7 separate regions of the Homo sapiens genome follow, and all the other regions are linked to region 1. Evidence: fine-mapped expression QTL. A gene starts in region 1. Each other region holds a variant in brackets. All regions are shown on one strand. Distances are from middle to middle.

Region 1 (4,426 bases):
CCTGTGAGCTTTCTATGTGTATTTCACAGTAATGCCCATGCCAACGTCTATTGTTCCGTGTACCTTTTGCTACCCAGAGTTATGTGACCACTGGGGCCCCATCTGATGGTGGGCAATGTTTGGCACACTTATAGGCCATCCACTACCACTACCAGGGGCACGCATAGGTGCTGGAACTCCCTGGTGTGGGGTCATATATCACGGTGGAGTGATGACACGGTTGAGTAATGCAGACCATCAACATCGGGACCCATTTCTGGGTTCACTTTTGCCTCTTCCATTCAGGAGGTCAAAATCTGGGTTCATTCCTTTCCACACTCTCTCTCTCTCTAAGAAGTAGGGATATTAAACTGACCTTCAGGTACACTGTGTTGAGTGAAAAAGAGGTCATTTATGTAAAGTGTATGGTGGTGCTGAAGTTTTTCTTCCTTTTTATTAGAAGAATGACATGACTTGGGAGGCTGAGGTGAGAGGACCACCATAGGCCAGGAATTCAAGAAAACTGACACTTGCACTTGTGCTGGGCATGCGGGTCCACATTTTTGGGGGAAAACACACATTTACAAACACTACACATTAATTCACCCCTGGCTATCTCCCAACCCTCATGCACACAAACCCACATCATCTAAATGACACGGCTGTTTCCAGGGACTCTAGTGGATGATGACAGTTCTTCACTGAGCCATCTGTTTCTCACACTGCACTCCAGGTCCTCACTCCTATCAGGAACCTGAAGCCAGGCAGGCTCTCCAGACAGAAGCAGGGAAGAGAGTCCCCTGCGAACCATCACTTAGATTTGTCATCAGCAAAGGAGTGGTCTTAGAATACGTACGGTGTTAGACAGGGAATGATACACACTGGGGCCTGTCAGGGGGCAGGGGAAGGGAGAGAATATGGATAAACAGTTAATGCATGCAGGGCTTCATACCTAGGTGATGGGTTGACAGGTGCAGCAAACCACCATGGCACACTTTTACCTACGTAACAAACCTGTACATCCTGCACATGTACCTCGGAACTTAAAAAAAATTAAATTAGGAGCCGGGCGCGATGCCTCATGCCTGTAATCACAGCACTTTGGGAGGCCGAGGCGGGCAGATCACCAGGTCAGGAGATCGAGACCATTCTGGCTAACACAGTGAAATCCCGTCTCTACTAAAAATACAAAAAATTAGCCGGGCGTGGTAGTGGGCACCTGTAGTCCCTACTCAGGAGGCTGATGCTAGAGAATCGCTTGAACCCAGGAGGCAGAGGTTGCAGTGAGCTGAGATCCCGCCACTGCACTCCAGCCTGGGCAACAGAGCAAGACTCCATCTAAAATAAATAAATAAATAAATAAATAAATAATAAATAAAATTTACAAAAAATAAGCTACCTTAAGAGATGGAAGAAAAACAATCTGACCCTTAGCTGGTTCCTTCATTTAGGTACCAAACCGGCCAGATAGGTGAGGCTAGAGAATGGGATGGGGACTCCAAAATTGGGGTATTTGAATTTTCATTGAGAAAAGGGCTCTCCCTTTTCTAGATCAAAAAGTCTCAACGACAAAGACAGGAGGCAGAGTCAGCCTTTGTCCCCCATGCCCAGACCTGGGAAAGCTGGCTATGGACAGGAGGGAGCTGGAAGCTGAGGATGTCTCTGGGGATGAGGGTAAGGGAAGGGGGTGGGGGTGGCCAGAGGTGTGCCAGAGGGTAAACGGCACCCGTGGCTTTTTTACCTGTGGGCATCTTTTGGTTGCTGATGTGCTGCAGGTCTTGGCCCTCCGTGGCTCCCACATCCAGCTTGCCAGGCTCTACAGTAGTGGATTCTGATGTTGCAGCAGCCACAGTCTCATAAATATCAGTATCAGATTCATAACAGGGTGCGTCCTTCCCCCTGGGCCAGCCACAGTGGGAGTTGATACAACAGGTCAGTATATTCCCCATGGGGCCTCTCCATGCCTCTCCACTCCTGCCTCAGCCTTCAGCGAAATTGTAACTGTGCTGCCCTAGCAGCCACACTACTGAGGGTGGCCCTGCACTTTTAGAAGCAGCCTGACCCCAGGCAGATCTGGGTCCTCAGCCCTTATTCTGCCGCCACCTCCCAAACTAGCTGGTCTATGAGGTCAGGGACCTGCTGTCTTCTTTGAAAAATAAACGAACATGACAAGCACCCAAAGGTGCAAAAACTGCCATCAAAGAGCACAGTTGGAGCTCCTCCTCCCTCCACTGCGAGCTACTGACTGAGGGCTGCTGGCCCTGGCTGATGCTTATAACCCACAAAGCTTCCTATGTCACCTGGTTACCAGGAAACAGCCAGGTCAGGCTAGTGACTCACAATGTCCAGCCCCACAGCCCCCCCCAATGCCTCATAATGCCTGTCCCTGCTGCTGCCCACCTTGTGGCCCCCCTGCCCCTCTGTGGGGACTGCACTACTCAGGCTTTTATTCACCCTATGCTGCCTGAGCTTTCCAGTCCTGAGCTAAGTGCAGGGGGAGTTGTTATTGCGAGTCACCCTTGGCAAGAAACTCAATAGAAAACCCTGGTATGGCCGGGAGTGGTGGCTCACGCCTGTAATCCTAGCACTTTGGGAGGCTGAGCGGGGGGGGTGGATCACTTGAGGTCAGGAGTTCAAGACCAGCCTGGCCAACATGGTGAAAACTTGTCTCTACTAAAAATACAAAATATTAGCTCGGCCTGGTGGCGGGCACCTGCAATCCTAGCTACTCAGGAGGCTGAGGCAGGAGAATCGCTTGAATCCAGGAGGCGGAGGTTGCACAGTGAGCCAAGATCACACCATTGCACTCCAGCCTGGGTGACAAAGGTGCAACTGTCTTTAAAAAAAAAAAAAAAAAAGAAACAAAAGAAAGAAAACCCCAGTTACTAAAGTCAGTTCCACCAGCAGTTCTGTTTTTCTGAGTCTGACAGCTTTCATTTGCTCACCAAATGTAGTTATACACAAATTTTTTACTGCTTTTCTAATTAAATGCTTCTCTCCTGTCTTACAAGTGTTAGTTCTTGTCTGCAACTTGACCATAGCTACCCCCAGGGCCCTGGTCCCACTCTCAATAGAGAGTTATGGCTGTGTATCCTCAGTGAAACCCTGGGACACATCACACTTCCCTCCTCGTCTATAAAATAGGGACTGAACACATCCTTCCCAGTTCTGTAATGCTACGACCTACCAACTCCCTTTTCTCGCTCTGTTTCTTCTTTCCATGGCAGGGGTATTCAGATATTTCTTTTATTTACTTATTTATTTATTTTTTGAGATGGACTATTGCTCTGTCGACCAGGCTGGAGTGCAGTGGCACGATCTCGGCTCACTGTAACCTCCACCTCCCAGGTTCAAGCGATTCTCCAGCCTCAGCCTCCTGAGTAGCCTGGACTACAGGCACACGCCACCGCATCTGGCTAATTTTTGTATTTCTAGTAGAGACGAGGGTTTCACCATGTTGGTCAGGCTGGTCTTGAACTCATCTCAGGTGATCCACCCGCCTCGTCCTCCCAAAGTGCTGGGATTACAGGCATGAACCACCATGCCCAGCCTCAGGTATTTCTTTTACTAACAAATCATAAAACATTATTTTCTTATACAAAATTGAGAACCCCACAGTGGGGTACCATTGTCCTCATAGGACAAAGACAAATAGTCAATATCTGGCAAGCATTATGTGCCTGACAGTGTTCCAACTGTGGCATACTAATTTAACCCTCAGAAATAGTCCCATTTTACACATCTTACAGCGTAAATCTAGAGGGAAAAGTCAAGTAACTTCCCCAAGGTCCCACAACTGCTCAGTGAGTTCAGGCAGATGAGCAAACAAAGGCTTAGAGTTCAGTTGTCTGAGGCTACACTGCAAAACAGTGGATGAACCTGGAATACAAAGGCTCATTCACTGTCCAGCAGTAGAGTTGAAGTAGAGTTTAAGTTTTATTCTGGAAACATGAGAGTCACGGAACCACACAGAGGTGAGGAGTCTCTATCAGATGTGTTTGCAGTGAGGTCTCTCTGCACAATAGAGAAGGACTCATGGAACCAGTGGGACCAATTAAGAGACATGATGTTGGGAGGCCAAGGTGAGTGGATCATTTGAGGTCAGGAGTTCGAGACCAGCCTGGCCAACATGGTGAAACCCCATGTCTACTAAAAATACAAAAATTAGCCTGGCATGATGGCGGGTACCTGTAGTCCCATCTACCCAAGGGGCTGAGGCAGGAGAATCGCTTGAACCCAGGAGGTGGAGGTTGCAGTGAGCCAAGATCACACCACTGAACTCCAGCCTGGGCAACAGGGAGAGATTCTGTCTCAAAAAAAAAGAGAGAGAGACATTATGTTCATCTGGAAGAACAGATAAGGCCAAAGGAAGTAGAAATGACTGAAGTGGACAGAGAAGTTCTGTGATCATTTGGCAGAGAGAACAGAAAGTGCTAGAGGATTAGAT
Region 2 (4,426 bases), 600 kb after region 1:
AGAGAGCCCGTTCCCAAGGGGGACCTTCTCAATCCCTGCAGGTTGGGGCTGGGGGTTCCCCACAGGCTCCGTGTCCCCCCGTGCCAGGGAGTCACAGCCTGTCCGTGAGGCGCTGCTCCTTTGCGGGGGTGTTCTGATTAGTCCTAGTGGCCTGGGGGGTGGGAGTGGGGGACCTCCATGGGGCGTCACCTGTGCCCAGTGGCAGAGCCTGTGCACACTGGTCCAGCAGGCTCGGGGCGTGGCTGGCCGGCACCGTCTCCCGGGCATTGATGACCTCCACCTTCCCTGGAGTAGGGCAGGGCAGGTGAGTGGTCATGGACCCTGCAGACAGCCCCTGGCCTGCTCTAGGCCTCAGTTTCCATCTCTGCATTATGAGATGGACTCTGGGCTAACACAGGGACAGGAGTTGACACAAGGGCTTTGCACAGCTGAGGCAAATGGGGCAGGGCAGGGGGCCCAAGAACACCCAGAAACGGGCTTGAGTTGATGGGACTGGCTGGAGAAGGGGTTACGCAGTGGTGTGGACAAGCCCATCTTCCCCATGGCAGTTCACATGTGGGCCCACCTGTTGTCACATTGTAGATGGTGAAGATGACCCCTCCGCCCAGGCCCATGCTCTGAGGGTTGACGACGCTGGTGCAGACCAGAGCCGCGATGGTGGCATCCACGGGTGAGCCCTGCTGCTGGAGGATGGCTCTAGGGGACATGGCACAGAGTCGCTGTGGGGCTCCCCTCCCCCTGCCTCCCCACCAGGCTTGCTCAGCTGGCACTCATTGGAGAATGGTGACGGAGGCGGCACGTCGGCTGCCACCAAACCGCAGATTAGGTTGCAGAACACAACCAGGCTTCCCCATCAAATCCAGCTGCTCACAGGTCCACAACACACTACGGTTGCAAAGTGTGATGCCATTTACACTGACCTTTGCCATATACAAGGTGCTTCTCAGTTTGCAAAGTACTTCTGTTGCCATTGTTCCCAGCAGCACCAGCTCATATGCTACAGGCAGAACGAGGCCTCGGCCACCTCTCAGTCCCTCACAGTGGCCTCAGGAGCCCACCCTGGGACTCCACTCCCCATCTCACTGGGGACACTCTGGCCACAACTACTTCAAGGCTGGCCTTTGGCAGGTGATCCCAGGATCCTTCCCTGCCAGCAGGGCATAGGGCTTGAGCTGATGGACCCCAAAACTTCTCTTGGGACTCTGAGCCTATGGAAATTCTCTGGCCTAGGCTGGGTGTGGTGGCTCATGCCTATAATCCCTGCACTTTGGGAGGCCGAGGCGGATAGATCACTTGAGGTCAGGAGTTCAAGACCAGCTTGGCCAACATGGTGAAACCCCGTCTCTACTAAAAATACAAAAATTAGCTGAATGTGATGGCGGGCACCTGTAATCCCAGCTACGCAGGAGGCTGAGGCAGGAGAATTGCTTGAACCCAGCAGGCAGAGGTTGCAGTGAGCTGAAATCATGCCACTGCACTCCAGCCTGGGCAACAAAGCAAGACTGCCTCAAAAAAGAAAAAAAAAGAAAAGAAAAGAAAGAAAGAAAATAAATGCTCTGGCCTACCCCTCCCCATCTGTCCATGGGCAGCAAGAGGTGGGCCCTTTAGCACTGAGGGCTGGTCAGCCTGGCCTACATTATGATGATCCCTGTCCCTGGGGCACAGGCCTGCACAGCTCACTGAGGTCAACCTCTTCCCTAACACCCAGGAATCCTTCCTCCCCAGCACCTCAAGAAGCCAGCTTTTTTTTTTTTTTTTTTTTTTTTTTGAGACAGAGTTTCAATCTTCTTGCCCAGGCTGGAGTGCAATGACACTATCTTGGCTCATTGCAACCTCGCCTCCCGGATTCAAGCGATTCTCCTGCTTCAGCCTGCCGAGTAGCTGGGATTACAGGCATGCACCACCACGCCTGACTAATTTTGTATTTTTAGTAGAGACGAGGTTTCTCCATGTTGGTCAGGCTGGTCTCAAACTCCCGACATCAGATGATCTGCTCACCTCGGCCTCCCAAAGTGCTGGGATTACAGGCGTGAGCCACTGTGCC[C/T]GGCCAGAAGCCAGCATTTAAGCCCCAGTTGCAGATGGGGAAACCAAGGCCCAAAGAGGGAATGGACCTGGGTCCCTGCACCCACCCCGTGGGACCTCTGGCCCTAGCACCCTCCTTTGGCTCAGGTGTCTGTCCTGACCTAGCATGTCCATCTGGACACAAACCCACCCCAGCTCCTGAGCCACATGTCCCTCTCTGGGCCCACACGTGGCACACATGGGCACCACAGGGACACATGTAATCTTGGAACAGGAAAGAGAGCACAAAGCCAGAAAATGAAATAAACAAGTCAGGCATAAACACTAATTTTTATAAGAATAAAACACCATAAACAAAGCCAAATGACAAACTGGGGGAAAAAACACTTTAAACTCCCATCCCAGACAAAGGCCTCACTTCCTAACTAAATGGAGTGCACCCTTGCTTCCCCAACCTGTCTGCTTCCAGCCTAGTCAGTTGTCTTGGCTTCCAGGGCAAAATGGGGTAAATGGTTACAGATGGGGAAACCAAAGCCCCAAGAGGGAATGGGCCAGGTCCCTGCACCCACCTCGCCCACCCTGCCAGGCTTTGGTTTTCGTCCCACCTCCCTGGTCTCCTGATGTTGGGGGCCCCAGGCTTGGTCCATGGTCCTTGTGCATCTATATCTTCTCCCTGGGTGAGTCCATCCAGGCTCATGGCATGAGATGCAACCTGTGTGATGGTAACTCCCCGACTTTAACTCCGCCAGTCCTCTCCCTACACTCGAGACACTTATACCCAGCTATGCACAAGGTACCCACTCTGGGTGTCTAAGAAACATTTCAAACATACCATGACCTAAACTGTACTTTTGATTTTCCTTCCAACCGTCCCTGCGAAATGGCTCCTCTCCTAGTCCTCGTTGTCTTAGAAATTGACACAACCACTCCCCCTTTTGCTCAGCGCCTACACCCTGGAGCCATCCTGGATTGGTCACTTTCTTCCTTCCCCACATCCAACCCACCAGTGACTCTGGATGCAGGTTCTACCTCCATCTCCACCACACTGGTCCAAGCCACCAACCTCTCTCAGCTGGGTTATTGCAATGGCCTCCTACCCAGGCCCCAGCGTTGGCCTTGCTCCCTTACATTTTAAAAAAATAATCTGTTAAGGCCGGGCGCGGTGGCTCATGCCTGTAATCCCAGCACTTTGGGAGGCCCAGGCAGGCAGATCATGAGGTCAGGAGATTGAGACCATCCTGGCTAACACGGTGAAACCCCATCTCTATTAAAAATACAAAAAATTAGCTGGGCATGGTGGCGGGTGCCTGTAGTCCCAGCTACTCAGGAGGCTGAGGCAGGAGAATGGTGTGAACCTGGAAGTCGGAGCTTGCAGTGAGCCAAGGTTGTACCACTGCACTCCAGCCTGGGCAACGGAGAGAGACTCCATCTCAAAAAAAAAAAAAAAATCTGTTAAACGTAAATCAGACTTCCTGGTAATGGGAGACTGTAATTCAGACCACACTTCCCTCAGAGAACTAGAAAAGCCCAGCAAATAGAAAACATGTGCTTAAAGGCATAGGAGGCAGAGAAGTACAGGGCTGGAGACAGGCAAGGCCAGCATTCCCCTCAAGGTGACGGCCAATCCTGAAGAGGAGGCTGAGAAATAGATCAGGGATTCTTTTTTTCTTTTCTCTCTTTTTTTTTTTTTTTTTGCTTTTTATTTTTCTGAGACAGGGTCACCATTACTTTTAATGGCAAAAACCGCAATTACTTTTGTACCAACCTAATATATTGCTCTGGCTGGTCTCAAATTCTTGGCCTGAAGCAATCCTCCTGCCTCAGTCTCCTGAGTAGCTGGGACTATAGGCGTGAGCCACCACACCTGGTCTAGAGCAGTGCTGTTGACCTACTCATGTGCTGAGGGAGGGGATGCCATAATGCCCCACACGTGGGGTGCAGGTTTCTTACTCTAGGAGTCAACTAGAAATAGAGCAGCCCTCAGGAGCACTGGATCCAGCTTCAAATCATCTCAGTCACTCAAATGCATAAAGGAGATCCCAGAATTTCAGATCCCTAGGCCTCAAATTATTTTATATTTATTTATTTATTTATTTGAGACAGCATCTCACTCTGTTGTCCAGGCTGGAGTGCAGTGCCTCGATCTCGGCTCACTGCAACCTTCACCTCCTGGGTTCAAGCAATTCTCCTGTCTCAGCCTCCCAAGTAGCTGGGATTACAGCCACCAGCCATCACGCAGAGCTAATTTTTGTATTTTCAGTAGAGACAGGGTTTCACTGTGTTGGCCAGGCTGGTCTTGTACTCCTGACCTCGTGATCTGCCTGCCTTGGCCTCCCAAAGTGCTGGGATTACAAGCGTGAGCCACCGCACCCGGCCTCTAACAATTTTTATACATACTCTCCAG
Region 3 (4,426 bases), 600 kb before region 1:
TTCCCTTCCTGATGTTTTTAGTTGATGCCCTAATGGAATAGGTTTCTTTTTCTGTTCTGACACACAAGTTCTCTTCTGATTGTCAAATTATTGGCTAAAGGGAGCCCCTGCTGGTCCCCAACATTATAAAGCCCGACACCAGTTTTTAGTTTTCTGCTTTCTGCATTTGCTCCAGATTGGAGAAATTTAAGAAAAATCAAAAGACACGGAGTTAAAATGAGAGAGCTGACATTGCCTGGGGCAATGTTGAGGCAAATTACGATAATGATTGACAAAAGGGCCTGAGGCCCTTCACCCAGCCCCCCTGCTGGAAACCCAGATTCACTCTCACCAGGGAAGATAAAACGGTCTGGGATAGAGAAGAAATGTTCCTAGAACAAGAACGTAAAAATATAAGGGACCTGAAGCTATCCCTGCAGTAATGGAAATAATGATGCCCAAAAGAGTTCCATGAGAAAACAAATGGTTTATGTAAGATCTTGCTTCCTGGAAAATGCAAGGAGAAGATACTTGCAAGCAGGGAGCTTCTTTTCCCCCTTAGGATTAACACTGCATGAGGAGCTGCTAGATTCTACAGTGCTTGATAAATAGCTCTTCCCTGACTGACAAAGAGCTGCTTAGTTTGCGGATGGCCGTTCCTAGGTGAACAACTGACATCCTATTTGGAAGGCTGCTACTCTGATTGTGAAGTATACTTTTATGAACAGAATTTACCTTTCTTGCTACCTGAGTTCCCCTAAATTCGGTAACTATTCATGAGTATCCTTATTTTATGGCAATATACTTGTTTGCATAAGTTCGGTTAAGAGGACATAATTGGAGACACTGGTTATTTTACCAAGGCTTTGACTAAATAATATATTTTTAGGAGTCCCAGCAAAGCCAACTTGAAAAGAGCCTATGTGGCCAATCAATTCTTGTTGAACTTTATGCACATAATTAGGCCAAGTATAAGCCTAAAACTTAACTTACACACAAATTGGCCTTACCATGATTTCTCTTTAGTGGAAAAACAGGGCTAGAGAGAGAAAAATTATGTTTCAAAAGGAAAACTATTCACACACCTGTTACTAGATTGCAGCCCTGACCTTTGTTTCTGAGCACAGATTAAATCATGAATTATTTCTTGGCTATAACAGTCCTCTAAAGACAAACAAGGTTATGATTTTCTTTATGTTTTTAGTTGGCATTCTAATGGAAGAGGGTTATTTTTCTGTTCTGACACACAAATTCTTTTTTGATGGTCAAATTATTGTTATTTAGGTCACATAGCTTTACTTCTTCTGAGGAAACCAGAATTATGGTATTCTGAAGGCTAGAGACAATTTGACAAAGCCCGTGAATCTCCCTCATTTGAGATCCTGCTGGGCCCGATGTGTTTTTCACTGCCAATGCCCTGCTGCTAAAACTATACAAGCACCTGGCTGGGCACGGTGGCTCACGCCTGTAATCCCAGCACTTTGGGAGGCCGAGGCAGGCGGATCACAAGGTCAGGAGATCAAGACCAGCCTGGCTAACACCGTGAAACCCTGTCTCTACTAAAAATACAAAAAAAATTAGCAGGGCGTGGTGGTGGGTGCCTGTAGTCCCAGGTACTTGGGAAGCTGAGGCAGGAGAATGGTGCACCGATTTCCACATGCAAAAGAAAGACTCTGAAACCCTACTTCACACTATGCACAAAAAGTCATTTAAAATAGATCAACAGCCTATGCCGGGCACGGTGGCTCATGCCTGTAATCCCACCACTTTGGGAGGCCGAGGTGGGCAGATCACGAGGTCAGGAGATCGAGATCATCCTGGCTAGCACGGTGAAACCCCGCCTCTACTAAAAATACAAAAAATTAGCCGG[G/T]CGTGGTGGCGGGCGCCTGTAGTCCCAGCTACTCAGGAGGCTGAGGCAGGAGAATGGCATGAACCCGGGAGGCGGAGCTTGCAGTGAGCCGAGATTGTGCCACTGCACTCCAGCCTGCGCGACACAGCAAGACTCTGTCTCAAAAAAACAAAAAAAGAAAAAGAAAAAGAAAAAGAACGTTAAGGGTTGATGAATGCCTGTCCACCTTTATTCCTGTCTGGCTCAGAACATTTAAATTATGTCTTTTAGCTCTAAGTCTCTTGGCTGTAGGAGTCCCACTTAGAGACAGAAGGGACCCATGGCAGGCAGCCACACCACCCCAGCAATGCTGTGGGACGAAATAAAAGTTTGGTGGCTTGCTGTTTTCTCTGGGAAATCTTGGCCAGAAGGAGGAGAATGTAAACCAAAAATAAAATTCTAAGCCCTACAACTTACTGATGGACACCCCTCTTTACCAAGGGCATTCCAAAGTAAACCTGAAAAGCTAGTTGAGGCCATGGTGGGAAGTAGAGGTCAGACATGCTTCATTATTCCCTCCTCTTTTTGGAATTCGAGCATAACTAACCAGCATTAACATTAAAACAGAGATCTTAAGACTGACAATACAGACTTCTTGTAGCAATAAGACATCAAATTCCTGGCTGACTCTAGTATAGCATCACATGACAGATGGCAGGCCCTGAAATAAAGTATTTTAGCCCCAAACATGCTTCTTTGACATATTTTGAAATGGCCCTGCAAAGCTGTCTCTTCTGAAGGAAATCTACATTCTGTAGAAAGTCCCCTTCCCTTGCCAGGTCTTTTCTGTGACCCAAGAGAATTAACTAAGAGTCTGGCACCTTTTAGGTCTGATAAGAGCTCTGAAGTCTTCATCTACATGACAAAACCTTGGTCACCACAATACCTTATTTTAACCCAGACATTCCTTTCTATTGATTCTAGGTCTTTAGGTAATAACTCTTTAACCAATTGCCAATCAGGAAATCTTTAAATCCACCTATGACCTGGAGCCCCTCCACCTTCCCTGCTTTGAGTTGTCCCGCCTTTTTGAACTGAACCAATGTACATCTTACATATATGGATTGATATCTTATGTCCCCCTAAAATATATAAGACCAAGCTGTAGCCCCACCACCTTGGGCACATGTTCTCAGGATCTCCTGGGGCTGTGTCATGAGCCATTGGTCACGCATATTTGGTTCAGAATAAATCTTTTCAAATATTTTGCAGAGTTTGACCCTTTTCATCAACACCATGTTTTGCAAGAGAGTCATTGAGCAGGTGGGTGTTGGCATGGCCACCGCATGGACCAGGGTGATGGGTTGCCTTCACATTGTAGTTGTCTTTGCAAGTGTTGCCCTAGAAGGTTCTATTTCACCTCATGGGTTTACACCCTGGCATCATTTGCTTTCTGAGACATGATTGTCTCCAGGCCAGGGTTGATCCAAGCTCCTTCTTGCTCATGGAGGCAGAGAGCTCTTATTTGTTTTCCTCCCTTTGTAGTGTAATCTGCTTTTAGCCATGCCATAGATTATGCAAAATTGTAAATGGTTCTCTCTCACACAATTTGGCTGTAGGAAAATATTATTCTGTGGCCTCTGTACACGGACGCGTCATGCTTAGAGATTTCATGCCCACAGGGGATGCATAGCAGTGGGCTCCTTCCACCTTCCCTGCAATGAGGAGGTAATTATTTGACCATCTCTTTCAGCCACACTTAACACCAAAGATCCCAACTAATGGCTCGATATTTTATCAATAAGACTGAAAGTGTAGCTTGTCAGATATTTTCTTTCTTTTTATTTTTGAGTCTTGTATTAAATCTTGTTTCCCCTAACAGCACTGCATAGCTGGGCATCGCAAAAGCACAGCACCGGAGGCTCTGTGATCTGGTCCTGCCTGCCTCTCTGGCCTCACTCTCTGCATGCACAGCCCTAGGTCCCAGCCACTCCAAACGCTCACAGTGCTGATTACTGAATTGTCGTGTACCTTCTCTGGCCTTTCTTCATTGGCAGAGACTGTTTTCTTTGCCAGAAATATTTTTTTACTCCTCCACCTGGCCAGCGCTTCCTCCCTTGAGTTCAGTCCTCTAAACCAACCTGCCAGTGCTCCCTGCACCACCCAACTTAACAGGACTCAGCTTAGCACCATGCATGTGGAAGGAGAGCACTAGGCTTCAGGGATGCCAGAGCTGCCTCTCTTTGCTCTCCCTGGGAAGGGCATGAGCAAGAGGGCAGGCAGTAATGGGACTCTGCCTCCCACCTGGGATGCCAGCCTCAGGGTATTGGAACCTATCACCACAGAAAACTGGAGGATCCAGTCAGTGGCTCTCCTGCTACCCATGGTCTGAAGTTGCGGGCACATTGCACATACTTTCCTGGATTAGAGAACTCTCCAAGCCCTCCCTCCTGCCCTGCTTCAGAGAGCATGCCAATTTGGCTTCTGCCCATCTCCAGCAATGGTTCCTGTGGATCCTCTGCCTAGCAACAGGATTTACCAATGGATCAGTGGCAGGGCAGAATAGAAAGGAACCAGGGATGGCTCCCAGAGGATGTTTTACCTTAAGCAACCAGAGAG
Region 4 (4,426 bases), 89 kb after region 1:
TGCACTCCAGCCTGGGCTATAGAGTGAGATAGTATCTAAAAAAAAAAAAAAGTTTATTATAAAACTTTAGAACAGGAAATAAAGGAGGAAAGGAAAGAAGGAAAGTACAACTTGGAAGAGGGCCAAGCAGTCGACCTGAGAAACCAAGTGCCCAGCTTGACCTCTTGACTCAGGGTTTCATAGGTTGGCATCGTTCCAGGATCTTGCCATTCCTGATTCCTTAGCTTGGGGCTCCGAACACACATTCTTCTTAGACCATAAAGTCATTCTTCTTTTTTTTTTTTAATTTTATTTTTTTGAGAAGGAGTCTTGCTCTTTCGCCCAGGCGGCACTGCAGTGGCACTATCTCGGCTCACTGCAAGCTCCGCCTCCCGGGTTCACGCCATTCTCCTGCCTCAGCCTCCTGAGTAGCTGGGATTACAGGCGCCCGCCACCGCGCCCGGCTAATTTTTTGTATTTTTAGTAGAGACGGGGTTTCACCGTGTTAGCCAAGATGGTATCGATCTCCTGAGCTCGTGATCCGCCCGCCTCGGCCTCCCAAAGTGCTGGGATTACAGGCGTGAGCCACCGCGCCCGGCCGACCATAAAGTCATTCTAAGGGTACACATCAGTTATGGCTGTTGGGTGCCTCTGCCATACAGAGGGGTCCCTTTGGTCCTAGGAACCTGGACTGGACACAGTTGTTTGTACGATTACTCCCCCACCCCATTTTTTCATGCTCGCCAAATCCACCTTCTGAGAATGGACCTTAATACTGGAAGGATACCCCAGTATAGTGAAAATAAATACATTCTAGGAACTGACAAGGCCTAAAGGCTTTTTCCCAAATGTTTATGCTTGTTTTCTTATTTAGTTATTTAGTTTTTTTTTTTTTTTTTTTGAGACAGAGTCTCGCTCTGTCGCCCAGGCTGGAGTGCAGTGGCACAATCTCGGCTCACTGAAAGCTCCGCCTCCCGGATTCAGGCCATTCTCCTGCCTCAGCCTCCCGAGTAGCTGGGACTACAGGTGCCCGCCACCATGCCAGGCTAATTTTTTGTATTTTTAGTAGAGACGGGGTTTCACTGTTAGCCAGGATGGTCTCGATCTCCTGACCTCGTGATCCACCCGCCTCTGCCTCCCAAAGTGCTGGGATCACAGAAGTGAGCCACCATGCCCAGCCTATTTTCTTTCTTTAAAATTTTACTTGTATATTCCTTTAGTAAAATGCTTACATGCTTAAATTAGGATATAGTTCACTGTTGATGAGGCAGCTTTAGGCCAAATTTAACAAAAGTAAGAAAAAGTAGGATGCCAAAGTTTATACAGTATGTAAAAATCAGTAATTCAGGACGGGCTTAGTGGCTCACACCTGTAATCCCAGCACTTTGAGAGGTGGAGGCAGGAGGATGACTGGAGCCCAGGAGTTTGCAACCAGCCTGGGCAACATAACGAGACCGCTGTCTCTACAAAAAATAAAAAAATTAAAAAATTAGCTATGTGGAGTGGTGCACGCCTATAGTCCCATCTACATGAGAGGCTGAGGCAGGAGGATTGATAAAGCCCGGGAAGCAGAGGTTGCAGTGAGCCGAGATTGTGCCACTGCACTCCAGCCCAGGTGACAGAGCGAGACCCCATCTCAAAAAAAAAAAAAAAAAAAAAAGACTAAAGGGTGCCAGAGAAGATGCCTTCCTTTTTTCCTTTTCCTTCTTTCTTTTTTTCTTTTTTTTTTTTTTTTTGAGAGTCGCGCTCTGTCGTCTAGGCTGGAGTGCAATGGCCTGGTCTCGGCTCACTGCAACCTCTGCTTCCCGAGCTTCATCAATCCTCCTGCCTCAGCCTCTCATGTAGCTGGACTATAGGCGTGTGCCACCTGGTTCAAGCAATTCTCCTGCATCAGCCTCCTGAGTAGCTGGGATTACAGGCGCCCACCACCACGCCCGGCTAATTTTTGTATTTTTAGTAAAGACAGGGTTTCACCATGTTAACCACACTGGCCTTGAACTCCTGACTTCAGGTGATCCGCCCGCCTCGGCCTCCCAAAGTGCTGTGATTACAGGCATGAGCCATCGCGCCTGGTGAATTCAAATATTTTTTACGTTTACAGTTGGTTAAGAAAGCAAAGCTTTATCTAAAACCTTGGGGTCAGCAGAAGGGATGTTAAGTTTTCACCTGTGAGTCTGATTCCCTCCAAGCCCCTCAGGAAGAAATTTAGAACAAAGAACTCCAATCAGAGTTCAGCCCTTGGTTCACCCTTATCTGAGGTCAACGTGAAAGCTGTCGCCATTTTTCATCTGGTTGAGGTCTGCGCTTCTGAAAAACAACTTAGGGACATTTGTCAAGATGTTATCTTTACTTTCTATAGGGGATCAAATATCTTGTGGCTCTAACCGACTTGGGTGGCTGTTGTTCTGAGCTATTATTACTTTTTCTTGTTTTTTGTTTTTTGTTTTTTTTTTTGAGACGGAGTCTTGCTCTGTTGCCCAGACTGGAGAGCAATGGCCCAATCTAAGCCCACTGCACCCTCCGCCTCCC[G/A]GGTTCAAGCAATCCTCCTGCCTCAGCCTCCCGCGTAGCTGGGATTACAGGCATCCGTCACCACACCCAGCTAATTTTTGTATTTTTAGTAGAGATGGGGTTTCATCACATTAGCCAGGCTGATCTCGAACTCCTGACCTCAGTTGATCTATCTGTCTCGACCTCCCAAAGTGCTGGGATTACAGGTGTGAGGCACTGAACCCAGCCAATTATTACCTTCTTCTCATCAAGTTGCTAATTTACTTCTCAAGATAGCTAGGTGCCCGGAATTTCCCTCGAAGGGTAATGTGGTTTGGGTATGTGCCCTCCAAATCTCATGTTGAGATGTGATTTCCAGCCAGGCGCAGTGGCTCACACCTGTAATCTCAGCACTTTGGGAGGCTGAGGTGGGCAGATCACTTGAGGTCAGGAGTTCAAGACTAGCCTGGCCAGTATGGTAAAACCTTAATTCTACTAAAAAAAAAAAAAATACAGGCCGGGTGCGGTGGCTCATGCCTGTAATCCCAGCACTTTGGGAGGCCAAGGCGGGTGGATCACAAGGTCAGGAGATCGAGACCATCCTGGCTAACACGGTGAAACTCTGTCTCTACTAAAAATACGAAAAATTAGCCAGGCGTGGTGGCGGGCGCCTGCAGTCCCAGCTACTTGGGAGGCTGACGCATGAGAATGGCGTGAACCCGGGAGGTGGAGCTTGCAGTGAGCCGAGATAGTGCCACTGCACTCCAGCCTGGGTGACAGAGCAAGACTCTGTCTCAAAAAAAAAAAAAAAAAATTAGCCGGGCGTGGTGGTGTGCATCTGTAGTCCCAGCTACTCGGGAGGCTGAGGCAGGAAAATTGCTTGAACCTGGGAGGCAGAGGCTGCAGTGAGATGAGATCACACCACTGCACTGCAGCCTAGGTGAGAGAGCAAGACTCTGTCTCAAAAAAAAAAAGAGATGTCATTCTCGGAATTGGAAGTGAGGCCTGGTGGCAATGATGGGATCATCCCCTTGGTGATGAGTGAGCTCCCACTCAGGTAGTTCCCATGAGATCTGGCTGTTTATAAGAGTGCAGCGCCTCCCTGTTCTCTCTCTCACTCCCTCTTTCACCATGTGACATGCCGTATCCCCTTTTGCCTTTGTGAAAAGAAAATAAATCTTGGGACCCCTCCTACCCTGACAAGTCACTAAGCCAAAGGGAAAAGTCAAGCTGAGAGCTGCATCAGGAAAAGGTAGGATAGGCATGATGGGGGCAGAGAGGGCTCTCCCCTCGCCCACTAGAAATGTCAGCAGATGGTTTGGCGATCATCCCATTGCCTCTCTAAAAGGGATAAATTGGCCGGGCACAGCACCTTGTGAGGCCGAGGCGGGCGGATCACTTGATGTTAGGAGATCGAGACCAGCCTGGCCAACATGATGAAACCCCGTCTCCACTAAAAATACAAAAATATTAGCTGGGCATGGTGGTGTGTGCCTGTAGTCCTAGTTGCTCAGGAGGCTGAGGCAGGAGAATTGCTTGAACCCAGTAGGTGAAGGTTACAGTGATATCGCACCACTGCACTCAAGCCTGGGTGACAGAGCCAGATTCTGTCTCAAAAAAAAAAAAAAAGTGACAAATTGGCAGCTGGCACCAGGAAAAGGCCATTGCCTGCTGGTCCACACCTGTTGCATTAAAGTATGAATTGAATGCAGGCACAAGGGAGAGGCACAAGGGGGCTTCTGATAAAATGTCAGGTATTGGATGAGTGAGTCCAGGCATGTGCAGTAAGAGACAAAATGGGGGAGTATGACCTTTCGGGGGCACTCCACCAGAAAAGGGAAGAAAGCCTTAGATGGGTGTGCACAGAAGTTTCTAAACACATAGCGGGTGCTCACCTGCCCCCTGTGGCAGCCCACCCTAAAGGAAGGAACATGGGAAAGAGGCCAGCCTATAAAGTCCT
Region 5 (4,426 bases), 100 kb after region 1:
GTGATTCCCTTGCCTCAGCCTCCCAAGTAGCTGGTATTACAGAGGCCCGCCACCACACTTGGCTAATTTTTTTGTATTTTTAGTAGAGACGGGGTCTCACAACGTTGGTCAGGCTGGTCTCAAACTCCTGACCTCAGGTGATCCACCCACCTTGGCCTCCCAAAGTGCTGGGATTACAGGCATGAGTCAGCGTGCTCAGCCTATTATTACTGTAATAATATTTGTCATGCTGATCTATGACCGGTGATCCTTGATGTTACTATTGTATCAGTGCAAAAGTAATTGTGGGTTTTGTCATTAAAAGTAATGGCACTAGGCTGGGCCCTGCTCAGTAGCTTATTTGGTAAGCCGGTGGGTCCTGAAAGTTTGCTTTTTTTTTTTTTTTTTTTTTGGATATGAAGTCTCATTGTCACTAGGCTGGAGTGCAGTGGTGCGATCTCGGCTCACTGCAACCTCCGTCTCCCGGGTTCAAGCAATTCTTCTGCCTCAGCCTCCTGAGTAGCTGGGACTACAGGTGTGTGCCACCACGCCCAGCTAATTTTTTTGTATTTTTATTAGAGATGGGGTTTCTCCATGTTGGTCAGGCTGGTCTCGAACTCCCGACCTCAGGTGATCCGCCTGCCTCGGCGTCGCAAAGTGCTAGGATTACAGGTGTCAGCCACCACGACCAGCCGAAAGTTTGCATTTCTAGCAAGTTCCTGGGCAATAATTATGATGGCCAAGAATGACAGTCTGAGAACGACTGCTCTGGAAGATTTTATCTGTGACCCAGAGCTTTGACCCTTTTGGGGATTTGGTGTGTCATGTCCTTACTGCTGGAGTTTGCTTTAGTTAACAAAATCTGTCATTGCTCCCAAATCACTTGGTAGGGGTTATTCATTCTTCCTTGAGTTGAGCTTCTTTATCTTTGCTGTTAATAAAATGTAAGTTTCAAACATTTCTTTTTTCTTTTAGGGACAGGGTCTTGCTCTGTTACCCAGGCTGGAGTGCAGTGGTGCCATCACAGCTCACTGCAGCCTCCCACTGCTGGGTGTGGTGGTGGGCGCCTGTAGTCGTAGCTACACAGGAGGCTGAGGCAGGAGAATCGCTTGAACCTGGGAGGCGGAGGTTGCAGTGAGCCGAGATCGTGCCACTGCACTCCAGCCTGGGCGACAGAGTGAGACTCTGTCTCAAAAAAAAAAAAAAAAGAAAGAAAGGAAGGAAGCAAGGAAGGAAACAGAAAAGAAATGAAGCCTGACTTCAAGAAGTTCCAACATAGCATGGAGGAGGAGTGCAGGGAGCACGAGGGCGTGTGGGGGGGCGTCTCTGTTGGGAACTCAGGGAAGATGTTCTTGATCTGATTAATTATTCAACCAAAATGACAGGCTGGATTCTAGGCACTGGGAGTACCCTGAAGGGGCTTCTAGTAAACCTGTCCTCTGCATTGGGTCTTGGAAGATAGGGGGAATTTGCCCAAGGAAGAAGGGGAAAAGAACATTGCAGGCAGAGGGAGAAGTCTGGACAAAAAGGGTGACTGGCCTGCTTGAAGAACAGGAAGTCATCCAAGTGGCTATAACTATAACAAAAGGTAGGGAGGAGACGTGGAAAGAGTTTGGGGGAAGGCTGTGAAGAGCTTTGAATGTCAAGAGAGGGAGTTTGATCTTGGTCCTTTAGGTCATAGGGAGCCCCAGTCAATTTTAAAATCAGAAGAGCCAAATTTATTTTATTTTATTTTTATTTATTTATTTATTTTTAGACGGAGTTTCGCTCTTGTTGCCCA[G/A]GCTGGAGTGCAATGGCATGGTCCGGGCTCACTGCAACCTCTGCCTCCCAGGTTCAAGCGATTCTCCTGCCTCAGTCTCCCAAGTAGCTGGGATTACAGGCATGCGCCACCACGCCCAGCTAATTTTGTATTTTTAGTAAAGATGGGGTTTCTCAATGTTGGTCAGGCTGGTCTCAAACTCCTGACCTCAGGTGATCCACCCCCCTCGGCCTCCTAAAGTGCTGGGATTACAGGTGTGAGCCACTGCTCCCGGCCAAAACCCCATCTTAAAAAAGAAAGAAAGGAAGGAAGGAAGATAAATCTAGCTATAGTATTGAGCTATATGGGATGGAACAGAGGGAGAAAAAGAGACCAATGGCTGGAATGTGTTGTGGTTTGACGATTTCTAGCCCTGGCTCAACTTAAGAATGGAATTACTTGGAGTTCCCAGAATGGATCCAACTGTTTCAAGCCTTCCTAAATGCTCTTCCCTGTGCCTGGGATGCCCTTCCCTCAGTGTCGGTCTTGCTACCTCCCATTCATTCATCAGTATTCTAGCCAAACATCATCAATGTCAGGTAGGCTCCCAGTTGATCCAGGTGTCCAACTCTGGGCTCCCATGTGATCCTGAGTAGTACGGGCATTTAGCGATCTTTTCCTGATTTGGGAGCACTGTAGTAGTGCCTTCTGGGCCTTCTCCACCACCCAAGTGGTAAGCTCCTTGCAAGCAAAGCTTCGTCTGACACATTTTAGTGTCCTGACTCCAAGCCCTCTCCTGTCTTCCCCCACAGAAGCCCTAGAACTGGGCTGCAGCTGACCACTGGGAAGACAGGAAAGACTGTGAGACCAACTGTATGCCATGTGGTCCTGAAAAATGCGAAAATGGAGTGGCAAGTCCTGAGAGCCACCAGCTAGTGTCTGAGGCCTGGCATCCCTTTCTGGGAGGCCTCGTGTGAAAGCCAGTGGCATTCTGCAGATGTGAGGTCGTACTTCTGAATACGCAGCAAAATCCTGGGGCCAAATGCTTTGACAGATGAATTGAGGCTAGAAAGAGAGTTGGAGAAGTGGTTTGACAGCAGGGCTGTAACCACAATACCTAACATGGGTAAGTCACCAGGTGGCAGGCTCTGAGCTAAAATTCATCTCATTGCATCTTCATGACAGTACTGTTTATACATAAAGAAACAGAAGCTGGCCGGGCATGGTGGCTCACGCCTGTAATCCCAGCACTTTGGGAGGCCGAGGCGGGTGGATCACCTGAGGTAGGGAGTTTGAGACCAGCCTGACCAACACGGAGAAACCCCGTCTCTAATAAAAATACAAAATAAGCTGGGCATGGTGGCGCATGCCTATAACCCCAGCTACTTGGGAGGCTGAGGCAAGAGAATCGCTTGAACCCGGGAGGCAGAGGTTGTGGTGAGCCGAGATCTTGCCATTGTACTCCAGCCTGGGCAACAAGAGCAAAACTCTGTCTCCAAAAAAACAAAAGAAAAAAAGAAAAAAAAAAAAAACAGAAGCTGCAAAGGGTTAGGGGTTAGAGGACATGCACACAGGCACCCAGGTAGAAGGGGACACTCAGTCTGGCTGCCCAGATGACAGAAGAGAGATTGTCAGTCCAGGTTTCTTTGCAGCAAACAGCAAGCTTGCAAGCTTGGTATGTGCGGAGGCCACGCTGTAGGTATGGGGAAGAGAACTCAGGAAGAGGAGAAAGACAGGAAAGCAGCATAAAGGCTTGCAAAAAAATTAAAAACAAATAAAAAGCAGATGAGTCAAAAGAGTCTGCAGCTGAGTCCCTGACAGTCGACACTGAAATGGACATAAGCCTTTATCCTGAGGAAGCATCCTTGGCATTAAAGACTCATAGGAGGCCCAGGCGCAGTGGCTCATGTCTGTAATCCCAGCACTTTGGGAGGCTGAGGCTGGTGGATCACCTGAGGTCAGGAGATAGAGACCGGCCTGGCGAACATGGGGAAACCATGCCTCTACTAAAAATACAAAATTAGCAGGGCATGGTGGCGCATGCCTGTTATCCCAGCTGTTATCCCAGCTACTTGGGAGGCCGAGGCAAGAGAATCGCTTGAACCTGGGAGGTGGAGGTTGCAGTGAGCTGAGATCACGCCACTGCACTCTAGCCTGGCAACAGAGTGAGACTCCGTCCCCCAAAAAAAAAAAAAAAAAATTAGCCAGGTGCAATGGCGCGTGCCTGTAATCTCAGCTACTTTGGAGGCTGAGGCAGGAGAATCGCTTGATCCTGGTTGCAGTGAGCCGAGATCGCACCACTGCACTCCAGCCTGGGCTACAGAGCAAGACTTCATCTCAAAAAAAAAAAAAAAGAAAGAAAGAAATACTTCAAAACACTAATAGTGTAATAATCAACTGCACCTGATAGTTTGCTAAGCATGTTTGCATTCCTTATACCACTGAGGCCCCCAAGGCTGTGAGTGTCATCATTCCCCCATGTTATAGCTTAGGACCCTGAAGTCAGAGGCTGTAACTTGAGGAATGGGCTCAGGGCAGATCTTGGCACTGAACCCAAATGTGACAAGAAGAGAGACAGGTGGGCCCAATGGCAGACCTCTAGTCTATCCAGAAATGACACTCCACATATGGTTAATAACTCCTAGAGATGGGAGTGAGGGGTGAGCATGGCTTTTTGAGGTTAAATTAGTTAATATATATTAAAATATT
Region 6 (4,426 bases), 24 kb before region 1:
TAATCCCAGCACTTTGGGAGGCCGGGGTGGGTGGATAACTTGAGGTCAGGAGTTCGAGATCAGCCTGGCCAACATGGCGAAATGCCATCTTTACAATAAAAAAATTAGCCAGCCATTGTGTGCACCTGTGAGCCCAGCTACTTGGGAGGCTGAGGTAGGAGAATCGCTTGAACCTGGGAGGCGAAGGTTACAGTGAGCTGAGTTCACGCCACTGCACTCCCGCCTCAAAAAAAAAAAATTTTTTTTTTTGAGTGAGACCCCACCTCAAAAAAAAAAAATTAATTCAAACAAGTTCATGATGGACAAAATAGTAACCCTTTAGTGAAAGCTAGTGTCTGCCCAGGCCCCTCTAGGGGTTGATGTTCCTCCTCAACCCTCTGGCTTGTCTCCTCCACAGGCCTCCACATTCCATAAAATCTCTCACCCCTTACCTGCCCCACAGGCTTTTGGGGCTGGACTGACCACTTCCCTCCCAGGCTTCCAGCTCCAGCTGGGAGGAGCCAGGTGGGGCCTGTTTATGGGGGAGCCTTGCCTCATTGTACTTCTCCCAGTACCTGTACCCGAGCTGTGCCATGTGATGCCCCCCTTCCCATAGAGCCCCAGGTCCCTTCAAGACCCCTTGGCCAGAGCCTATGGCTTCCCATTGGCGTCGGTTGGGGCGCAGCTCTTTTTGGTGTGTGAGACACTGGCCTCCACTCTAGGTCTTCCATCTCGGAGTCGAACCCAAGCTCTTCTCAAAGGCTGGTCTGACCAGGCGTGAGTCTCCAACTCCTTTGAAATATTTGGGGTGGGAAGCGGGGGCTTTCTTGGCTCCCCTACTCTGGGGCAGTGGTAGGGAAGAGCGGAGGGTCTCCTGGTGTGCCTGGGCCCCACAGCAGTGAGGTGCGGGATCTCCCAGGGCTGGCTGCTGCCTCTCAGGCCACTGTGCCCTGCTACGGCAGATGCCCCCTGAGATGCCAGCGACCAAAGGCTGGCCCTCCCTGGGTCCTCTGCGCCTGCCCTCTCATTCAACTGCTGACATGGCTGTCACCCACCCACAGCCTCCTGCTGGCTTCTCAGGCCCCTGGCCAGGCAGCTTCGTGGGGTGATGGGGAACTTACAAGTTCTCCTGTCAAACCCACCAAGTTGCTCTGCAAAATCCTTCCTGCACCCTGCAGGCCAACCAGCATGGGAGGGGGTGTGGCCGGTCCACCCTCAGTGCCCTTTCCTGTTGTGCAGGGGCCCACGATGTCATCAGCAAGGGTCTGATCCGCTCACTGATGTGGAAGCTGTAGAGGGAGGAGCGTTCCGGGAGCTCGTCCTGGACCCGCTGTCTCCTGCCTGCAGGAGGATGCAGGAGAGGGTCTGGCACCTCCACCCCATGAGGAAGGCGAGAACAGGAGAAGCACTGGTGACGATCCTGACACCCAGTGGTCACTGAGTGTGTCCTGTGTGCCAGGCATTGTCTCCAAACCTCACATTTAGACAACCCTCCAGGGAGGCGATGTCTGCCTTCACAGGTGAGGAAACGGAGGCACAGTGTCTTGTGTCTCAGTCCAGGTCACATAGGATCACAGTCTACATCCTGGCCTCAAAACTGGGGGAGCACAAAGACTCAGAGCTTGCAGTGGTTGGGGAGTGTTCCCACACTGGGACCCTCATTGTGAGGATGGGCCAGTCACCGACCCCCAGAGTCCCTGCCTTGGCCGTGGCCATGTCCTCTTGCTGGCGGGGGCGGGGGGGGGCCTCTTGCCTTCCCTAAGTCCAGGTTTCTCTTTCTTCTGAGAGTCTCATTAGAGGCCCGGGTATTTCTCCAAGTGTGGCCCCTGAACCAGACCCTGGGTGGTCTGTGGAAATGCATGTTCCCAGGCCCCATCCCCGCCCCATCATTCTTAGGTTTGCACAGAGGTCCCTTTCCATGGGATCAGGAGAGTGGCTTTCCAGGAGAGAACTTTCTCTCTGAAAATGCAGCCTCCCCAGCCTCCCTGCATCCTCCTATGTCCACTGTGACCACCATCCTTGCCATCACTTTCTGTGTCATCCCCAAGGGGAGCTCCTGAGGACAAGGCTTTGCTCTGTTTGCTGCTCCAGACCCAAAGGTCACAGCAGGGGAGCTTTGGCCCCAAGTTGAGAATTACCTGGCCCAAAAGACTGCTGAGGTGGGGAAACCCAGCTCTTGCCTCAGCATCTCGCTGCATGAATGAATCAGGGAATCCCTGCAGCAGTGGGACAGGGTGGCACCTCCCTTTGAGACTCTGCAGGCACCAGGGTCAAAAGAGGGCTAGGGTGAGAGGGGGTGAGAAGAGGCCCCCCCAGGCTGTTAGAAATTCCGTGTTGGTGGCCTGCCGAGAAGTAGGTGGCCCTGGACGCACAAGCCATCAGCCTGCTCCTGAAGCTGCTACACTCATGCATGGGCAGGGTGTGCCTGAAGGCCACCAAGGCCCTCACCATGCTGCCAGAGGCCCCTGAGGGCTGCAAGGTCCTGCAGGCCCATATGCACACCTTCCGTGTCCTGGAGGAGGACTCTGACAGCAAGGCTTATGAGGGCGAGGCCTTATAGAAGGTGACCCAGATCGCCATCGATGTCATTGAGTGGAAACCCTGAGCCCCTCATTGGGTCAGACCTGATCAGCCACCTCTGCACCTGAATAAATGC[A/G]CTCAGTCTCTTTATTTCAAGTGGGAATGGCACTTTCTGCTCGTGGAGCACAGTCACGTCTCTTCTCACTCTCTTGCCAAAGGAGAAATGCCAGGCCCAGAAGCACTGGGTCCTGGATGGTACAGGCCAAACCTAGTGCTGGCGGTGGGTGGGAAGCAGCCTTGGACTTTTTCTCTCTGCTGGGACCAAGAGTTTTCCTCAGAATGTAGAGAGGATTGAGACCTCCAGGGGCAAAGCTGGGGACCCTGCAGCACGCGCTGGCCTGCCCTTTGGGTCAGCACCCTGGTCAGCTCCACAGAAGGGCTTCACCCTGGATGAAGAGATAATCCCTTTTTAGTGAGAGCAGGCTCCCAGCTTTGTGCACTATGACATCATCCCACTAAGCAGCCTCCACGCCAGCATCCCTGGGCTCCCGCCTCTGCAGTCCAGGCTGAGGAGAAATTACAGATGCGGAAACTCATCAGCCAGGGACAGAGGTGCCTCTGTTACAAGGGGAGGGCCAGGAACACAGCCTATGTTGGGACCTAGAAGTCCTGAGCCCCACACCCTTGCCTCCATTCTCCAAGGCCCATTTACCGTTATCAGCTTCTGGGATTTAAGAAACTGCTGTCGGGAGAGGTATGGGAGCCAGCCTGGAAGAGGCAACTGGTCATTCAACTGTAGCCCAGAGGCACAAACTGACACCCCAGACAGCTGAGTTTGGACAAGGGCAGAGGGACAGCCAGTGGCTATAAGCCCACACTATGGAGGGAGGCTGCTGTGTTGAGACCCCCAGCTCTACACTGACTGTTTATCTGTGGAGTCTGGGGCAAGTTGATTAACTGCTCAGTGCCTCAGTTTCACTAGCTCTAAAGTGGGGCGAGTAATTGTGCCTATCATAAATGGGTATGATTTTGGCAGTGCCGGGGGCATCATACTGAAAATAAGTGCCTTGTACATTGTGGGTACCCAGGAAGCCAGTTTACAGCCCCTCAGAGGAGACCCATCAGCAGGCATCTGAGGGAGCCTGGAGCCCTGCATCCTGCAGGTGCCTGGGGTCTTGTGCCCAGGAGAAGCTGCTCCCTCACTCCACAGCAGTCTACAGAGCACCCCCTGACCAGGGGTACACCTGTTTGTGCAGGTGTCAGCAGGGAGCCCTGGGCCTCTCTGGGCTCTGACTTTCCCTGGCAGGACTGTAGAGGGCCCAGAACCCTGCCTTCTCCCAGCCAGGCCCTTCCCTCCCTTCCCCAAACTCACGGCCTCCTCACCGCTCTCTGCCTCAGATTCAGGACTAATCTCACTATGTCCTTCATCCCTGTTTGCATCAGGGGCTGCAAGAAGCTCAGCTCACCTCTCCCTCAAGGCCATGAATACTCCTTTTCTGACCCCATCTGCTGCAACCTTTTCTCCAAGCCCTCTGGAGGCCCTCCCTGGAACATTCTTTCCTTTCTTGCTTGGACTGAAACCTAGCTCTCCCAAGACCTGCTTCCCCTCCCTGGGCATCCTCCTATGTGGGGCTGCTTTCCTCCCTCCCTGCCCCTCATGCCTTCACTGGAGTGGGACAGGTCCTTACGAACCATCTCCTATGCCCGTTCTGAGGAGCCCTCTGGTTCTGAATCCCTGCACAAGCTCTGTTGCCCTGGCCGTCTCTCCTCCCCAGCACCACACCACCAGATTGCTCTTGTAGGGCACGACGTGGTCTCCATGTGGCTGAGCCCAACCGCCAGTCCTCAGGCCTCATGTTTCTTTGGTCATGAGGATTTCCTCACCTCACCACCTCCCCGTCCCTGAAACACTTCCAGGAAATGAGGC
Region 7 (4,254 bases), 25 kb after region 1:
AGGCAGAGGTTGCAGTGAGCCAAGATCGTGCCACTGCACTCCAGCCTGGGTGACAGAAGGAGACTCTGTCTAGGAAAAACAAAAATTTTGCAGAAAATATGTTGAGACAGGATCTATGTTGCCCAGGCTGGTCTTGAACTCCTGGGCTCAAGCAATCCTTCTGCTTCCGAAAGTGCTGGGATTATAGGCATAAGCCAAGGCGCTGGCCACATCTATGTTTTGAAAGCGGGCAGAGGCCAGGGCATGGGACAGATCGGGGAAGGGTACAGGGCACCTGGGAAGTAGTCCTAGTGCCCAGGACTGGGGGGGAGGGTGGGGTGGAGGTGGGCACGTCACTTGACTGACATCCTTTTTGTGGAAGGGACTCTACAATGGCCAATAGGGACATATGTCCTCCTCTGTCCCCCTGCAATGCCCCAGACCTCTGTTAACCACCTGGCCTGGGGCCTATTATAAAAACTCAGGGTTGGGAGGCCCAGATGGGTGGATCCCTTGAGGTCAGGAGTTTGAGACCAGCCCGGCCAACATGGGGAAACCCTGTCTTTACTGAAAATACAAAAATTAGCCAGGCGCAGTGGCGGGCAGCTATAGTCCCAGCTACTTGAAAGTCTGAAGCAGGAGATTCACCTGAACCCTGGAGGTGGAGGTTGCAGTGAACAGAGATGGCACCATTGCACTCCAGCCTGGGTGACAGAGCAAGACATCTTCTGAAAAATAATACAGTACCTATGTGATAGCCTTGTTTTGAGCATTCAATCAGGTAACATTTGCAAATTGCATGCATAACATGGTGCCTGGTGCTCAGGAAGGAATTGGGAAATGCCAGCAGTTACTAAGGGAGGGCAGGCAGGGGACAGGACATGTTTCAGCTCCACTCCTGGTTCTTGTGTGCACCCAGAGACCTCTACCGTGCTCTGGCCCTGAGCTGTGAACTGACCCCTCCATGCCCAACAGCCCCAGCTGCCAAAGGACTCTGCCCTGCAGAGGGAGCCTCCGCCCCCACCCCGTCTTTTGAGCTGGTCCTGCCCCTTACCCCACAAGCTGCCCCACCAAGCCTAGATCTCCAGCAAAGCACTAGGTGGGGCCTGGATCTTTCTGATCACTGGGGCCAGCCAGTCAGAATTGGAGCCAGCCTGCCCCTCAGCTGGGAGCCTGGCAGTACCTCCCCCAGCGGGGTCCTGGGCCACCCTGCCTGTATTATTAGTAATAAAAACTGCTAAATATGCAAGGCTGCAGCCAAACCAATTAGTGCCAACCTACAGGAAGGCCTGGGGCAGGCTGAGGTCACCTGGAGTGCTGGGCTGGTCCAACGGCAGACCACTCTGCTCTAGGACCAAGCGCCTATCCTTACTGGCAGGCATAATAGGATGCCACTGGGAGATCAGAGTGAGGTGCCTCCCCTTGGGCACTGAGGAGAAGGGAGGCCCAGTGTGGTAGCAGAAGGTGCTGCTCCGAGCCAGGACACTTCTGGGCCAGAATGGTCTCTTCAGGGCCAGGGGATGGGGCACTGAGTTGGGCTGGGTTGAATGAGCAACAGTCAAGGTCGAATGTACACGGGAAATATCAATTTTGGTTTTGGGGTTTGTTTTTGTTTGTTTGTGTTGGTTTGTTTTGAGACAGAGTCTGGCTGTTGCCCAGGCTGGAGTGCAGTGGCAAGATCTTCACTCACTACAACCTCCACCTCCCAGGTTCAAGCAATTCTCCTGCCTCAACCTCCCGAGTAGCTGGGATTACAAGCGCTTGCCACCACGCCAGGATAATTTTTCTATTTTTAGTAGAGATGTGGTTTCACCATGTTGGCCAGGCTGGTCTCAAACTTCTGACCTCGTGATCCACCCATCTCAGCCTCCCAAAGGTGCCGGAATTACAGGCATGAGCCACTGCACCCAGCCCGCCTGGCCCATTTTGTTTTTCTTTTCTTTTCTTTTTTTTTGAGATGAAGTTTTGCTCTTGTCACCCAGGCTGGAGTGCCATGGCATGATCTTGGCTCACTGTAACCTCCACCTCCCGGGTTCAAGTGGTTCTCCTGCCTCAGCCTACATAGTAGCTAGGATTACAGGCACCCACCACCACCCCCAGCCAATTTTTGTATTTTTAGTAGAGATGGGGTTTTACCATGTTGGCCAGGCTGGTCTGGAGCTCCTGACCTCAGGTGATCC[G/T]CCTGCCTTGGCCTCCCAAAGTGCTGAGATTACAGGTGTGAGCCACCCCTCCCGGCCCCTTGCCTGGCCCAATTTTTAATATATTACAGGATTGTGGCAACCTTGTGTTGAGCTAGTGTAGTATTGGTGCTATTTTTCCAACAGCACGTGCTCACTTGGTGTCTTTGTTCAACATTTCGGTAATTCTTATTGCATTTCAATAATTCTTATCGCCTCCCAAATTGCTAGGATTACAGGCGTGAGCCACGGCTCCTGGCTGTTTTTTTGTTTTTGTTTTGTTTTCTTTTGTTTTTTTTGAGATGAGATGGAGTCTCACTCTGTCTCCAGGCTGGAATGCAGTGGCACGATCTCGGCTCACGCAAACTCTGCCTCCCGGGTTGAAGCGATTCTTCTGCCTCAGCCTCCCGAGCAGCTGGGACTACAGGGGTGAGCCACCACGTCCGGCCTGGCTGTTTCTTTGTCCTCCTCCTCCTCTTCCTCCTCCGTTTCTTTTTCCTCCTCCTGTTTCTTTTTCCTCCTCCATTTCTTTTTCCTCCTCCTCCTCCTCCATTTCATTTTCCTCCTGCTCCTCCTCTTCCATTTCTTTTCCCTCCTCCTCCTGCTCCATTTCTTTTCCCTCCTCCTCCTCCACCTCCTCCTCCTCCAACTCCTTCTGCTCCGTTTCTTTTTCCTCCTCCTTTTTTTTCCCCTCCTCCGCTTCCTCCTCCTCCTCGTAGGCACGAGACACCATGACTGGCCTGGTTGTTTCCTTTTCCTCCTCCTGCTCCTCCTCCACCTCCCAAATTGCTGAGATTACAGGCATGAGCCACTGCACCTAGCTGTTTCTTCTTCTTTTTTCTCCTCTTCCTCTTCCTCCTCCTCCATTTTATTTTATTTTTAGATATGGAGTCTCACTCTGTTGCCCAGACTGGAGTGCAGTGGCCTCACTGCAACCTTCACTTGCCTGGATTCAAGCAATTCTGCCTCAGCCTAACAAGTATCTGGAATTACAGGCAGCAGCCACCATGCCCAGATAATTTTTGTATTTTTAGTAGAGACGGGATTTCACCATGTTGGCCAGGCTGGTCTCCAACTCCTGACCTCGTGATCCGCCCACCTCGGCTTCCCAAAGTGCTGGGATAACAGGCCTGACCCACTGCGCCCAGCCCGCCTGGCCCGTTTCTTTTGTTTTCTTTTTTTTTTTCTTAAAACAGAGTTTTGCTCTTGTTGCCCAGGCTGGAGTGCAAAGGTGCGATCTTCCCTCACCGCAACCTCCACCTCCCGGGTTCAAGCGATTCTCATGCCTTAGCCTTCCGAGTAACTGGGATTACAGGCACTTGCCACCACGCCTGCCTAATTTTTGTACTTTTAGTAGAGACAAGGTTTCTCCATGTTGGCCAGGCTGGTCTTGAACTCCTGACCTCAAGTGATCCGCCCTCCTCGGCCTCCCAAAGTTCTGGGATTACAGGCGTGGGTCACTGCGCTGGGCCTACAGCTCATTTCTTACCACATAAAGTTTTGCGCCTCTCCACAAAACTGCCATCAGGGATGTCCCCAGAAACCATTCATCCCAGGCGCCACGCAGAGAAGAGCTGCTTGTTCTCCTTTTCCCTTTACCTCTTCCATCTCACCTCATCTTGTTCATTCATTCATCCCTTTTCCATTCTCACTTTTAAGCGTTAACCTTTCAAAACCCTGTTTTCCCCTATAAGTAATGTCTTGTAACTCCCGCAATCACCATATCCTTCTCCAACCCACCAAACTGCCATCCTGAGTTTATGGTAAGTCCATAAACTAAGAAGAAATGGGAAACATTCATTGCAAACCTGGCAGCCCCTCATCCACCCAACGTGACAGCACAGATGTTCTTGTCTTTGAAGACCCCCTTTTTTTTTTTTTTAAGACAGGTCTCACTCTGTCACCCTGGCTCAAGTGCAGTGGTGTAATCATAGCTCACTGCAGCCCCCAACTCCTGTGCTCAGGCGATCTGCCTGCCTCAGCCACCCAAGCAGCTGGAACTACAGGAACACACCACCACACCTAGCTAATTTGCTTACTTTTTGTAGAGAAGGGGTCTTGCTATGCTTAGCAGACTGGTCTCGAACTCCTGGCCTCA

Evidence for each region. PIP is the estimated chance that this variant, and not a neighbour inherited with it, causes the effect.
Region 2: its variant is fine-mapped to the expression of DRICH1 in cerebellar hemisphere (GTEx, PIP 0.92).
Region 3: its variant is fine-mapped to the expression of DRICH1 in uterus (GTEx, PIP above 0.99).
Region 4: its variant is fine-mapped to the expression of DRICH1 in cerebellar hemisphere (GTEx, PIP 0.99).
Region 5: its variant is fine-mapped to the expression of DRICH1 in cerebellum (GTEx, PIP above 0.99).
Region 6: its variant is fine-mapped to the expression of DRICH1 in testis (GTEx, PIP above 0.99).
Region 7: its variant is fine-mapped to the expression of DRICH1 in tibial artery (GTEx, PIP 0.98).

Annotation. Positions count from the first base shown.
Region 1 is chr22:23,630,096-23,634,521 of GRCh38, forward strand. It overlaps DRICH1 (aspartate rich 1), which reads right to left and starts at 2,226. Exons shown (of 12, transcript NM_016449.4): 1 at 1,721-2,226. The coding sequence starts at 1,928. It overlaps LOC124905089 (a long non-coding RNA gene), which reads right to left. Exons shown (of 3, transcript XR_007068021.1): 3 at 2,781-2,815. RefSeq lists a silencer at 3,265-3,402.
Region 2 is chr22:24,233,309-24,237,734 of GRCh38, forward strand. GGT5 (gamma-glutamyltransferase 5) reads right to left here. Exons shown (of 12, transcript NM_004121.5): 2 at 566-696; 3 at 190-285. Among named protein-coding and RNA genes, the nearest start is that of GGT5, 9.6 kb to the right of the region's middle. The variant C/T (reference allele first, on the strand shown) is at 2,045.
Region 3 is chr22:23,029,425-23,033,850 of GRCh38, forward strand. No RefSeq gene overlaps it. Among named protein-coding and RNA genes, the nearest start is that of GNAZ, 39 kb to the right of the region's middle. RefSeq lists enhancers at 1-819, 1,342-2,117. The variant G/T (reference allele first, on the strand shown) is at 1,850.
Region 4 is chr22:23,718,791-23,723,216 of GRCh38, forward strand. No RefSeq gene overlaps it. Among named protein-coding and RNA genes, the nearest start is that of RGL4, 30 kb to the left of the region's middle. The variant G/A (reference allele first, on the strand shown) is at 2,509.
Region 5 is chr22:23,733,638-23,738,063 of GRCh38, forward strand. No RefSeq gene overlaps it. Among named protein-coding and RNA genes, the nearest start is that of ZNF70, 15 kb to the right of the region's middle. The variant G/A (reference allele first, on the strand shown) is at 1,760.
Region 6 is chr22:23,605,824-23,610,249 of GRCh38, forward strand. It overlaps DRICH1 (aspartate rich 1), which reads right to left. Exons shown (of 12, transcript NM_016449.4): 12 at 2,629-2,945. The coding sequence ends at 2,941. Among named protein-coding and RNA genes, the nearest start is that of DRICH1, 24 kb to the right of the region's middle. The variant A/G (reference allele first, on the strand shown) is at 2,636.
Region 7 is chr22:23,655,092-23,659,345 of GRCh38, forward strand. It overlaps the pseudogene GUSBP11. Among named protein-coding and RNA genes, the nearest start is that of DRICH1, 25 kb to the left of the region's middle. The variant G/T (reference allele first, on the strand shown) is at 2,160.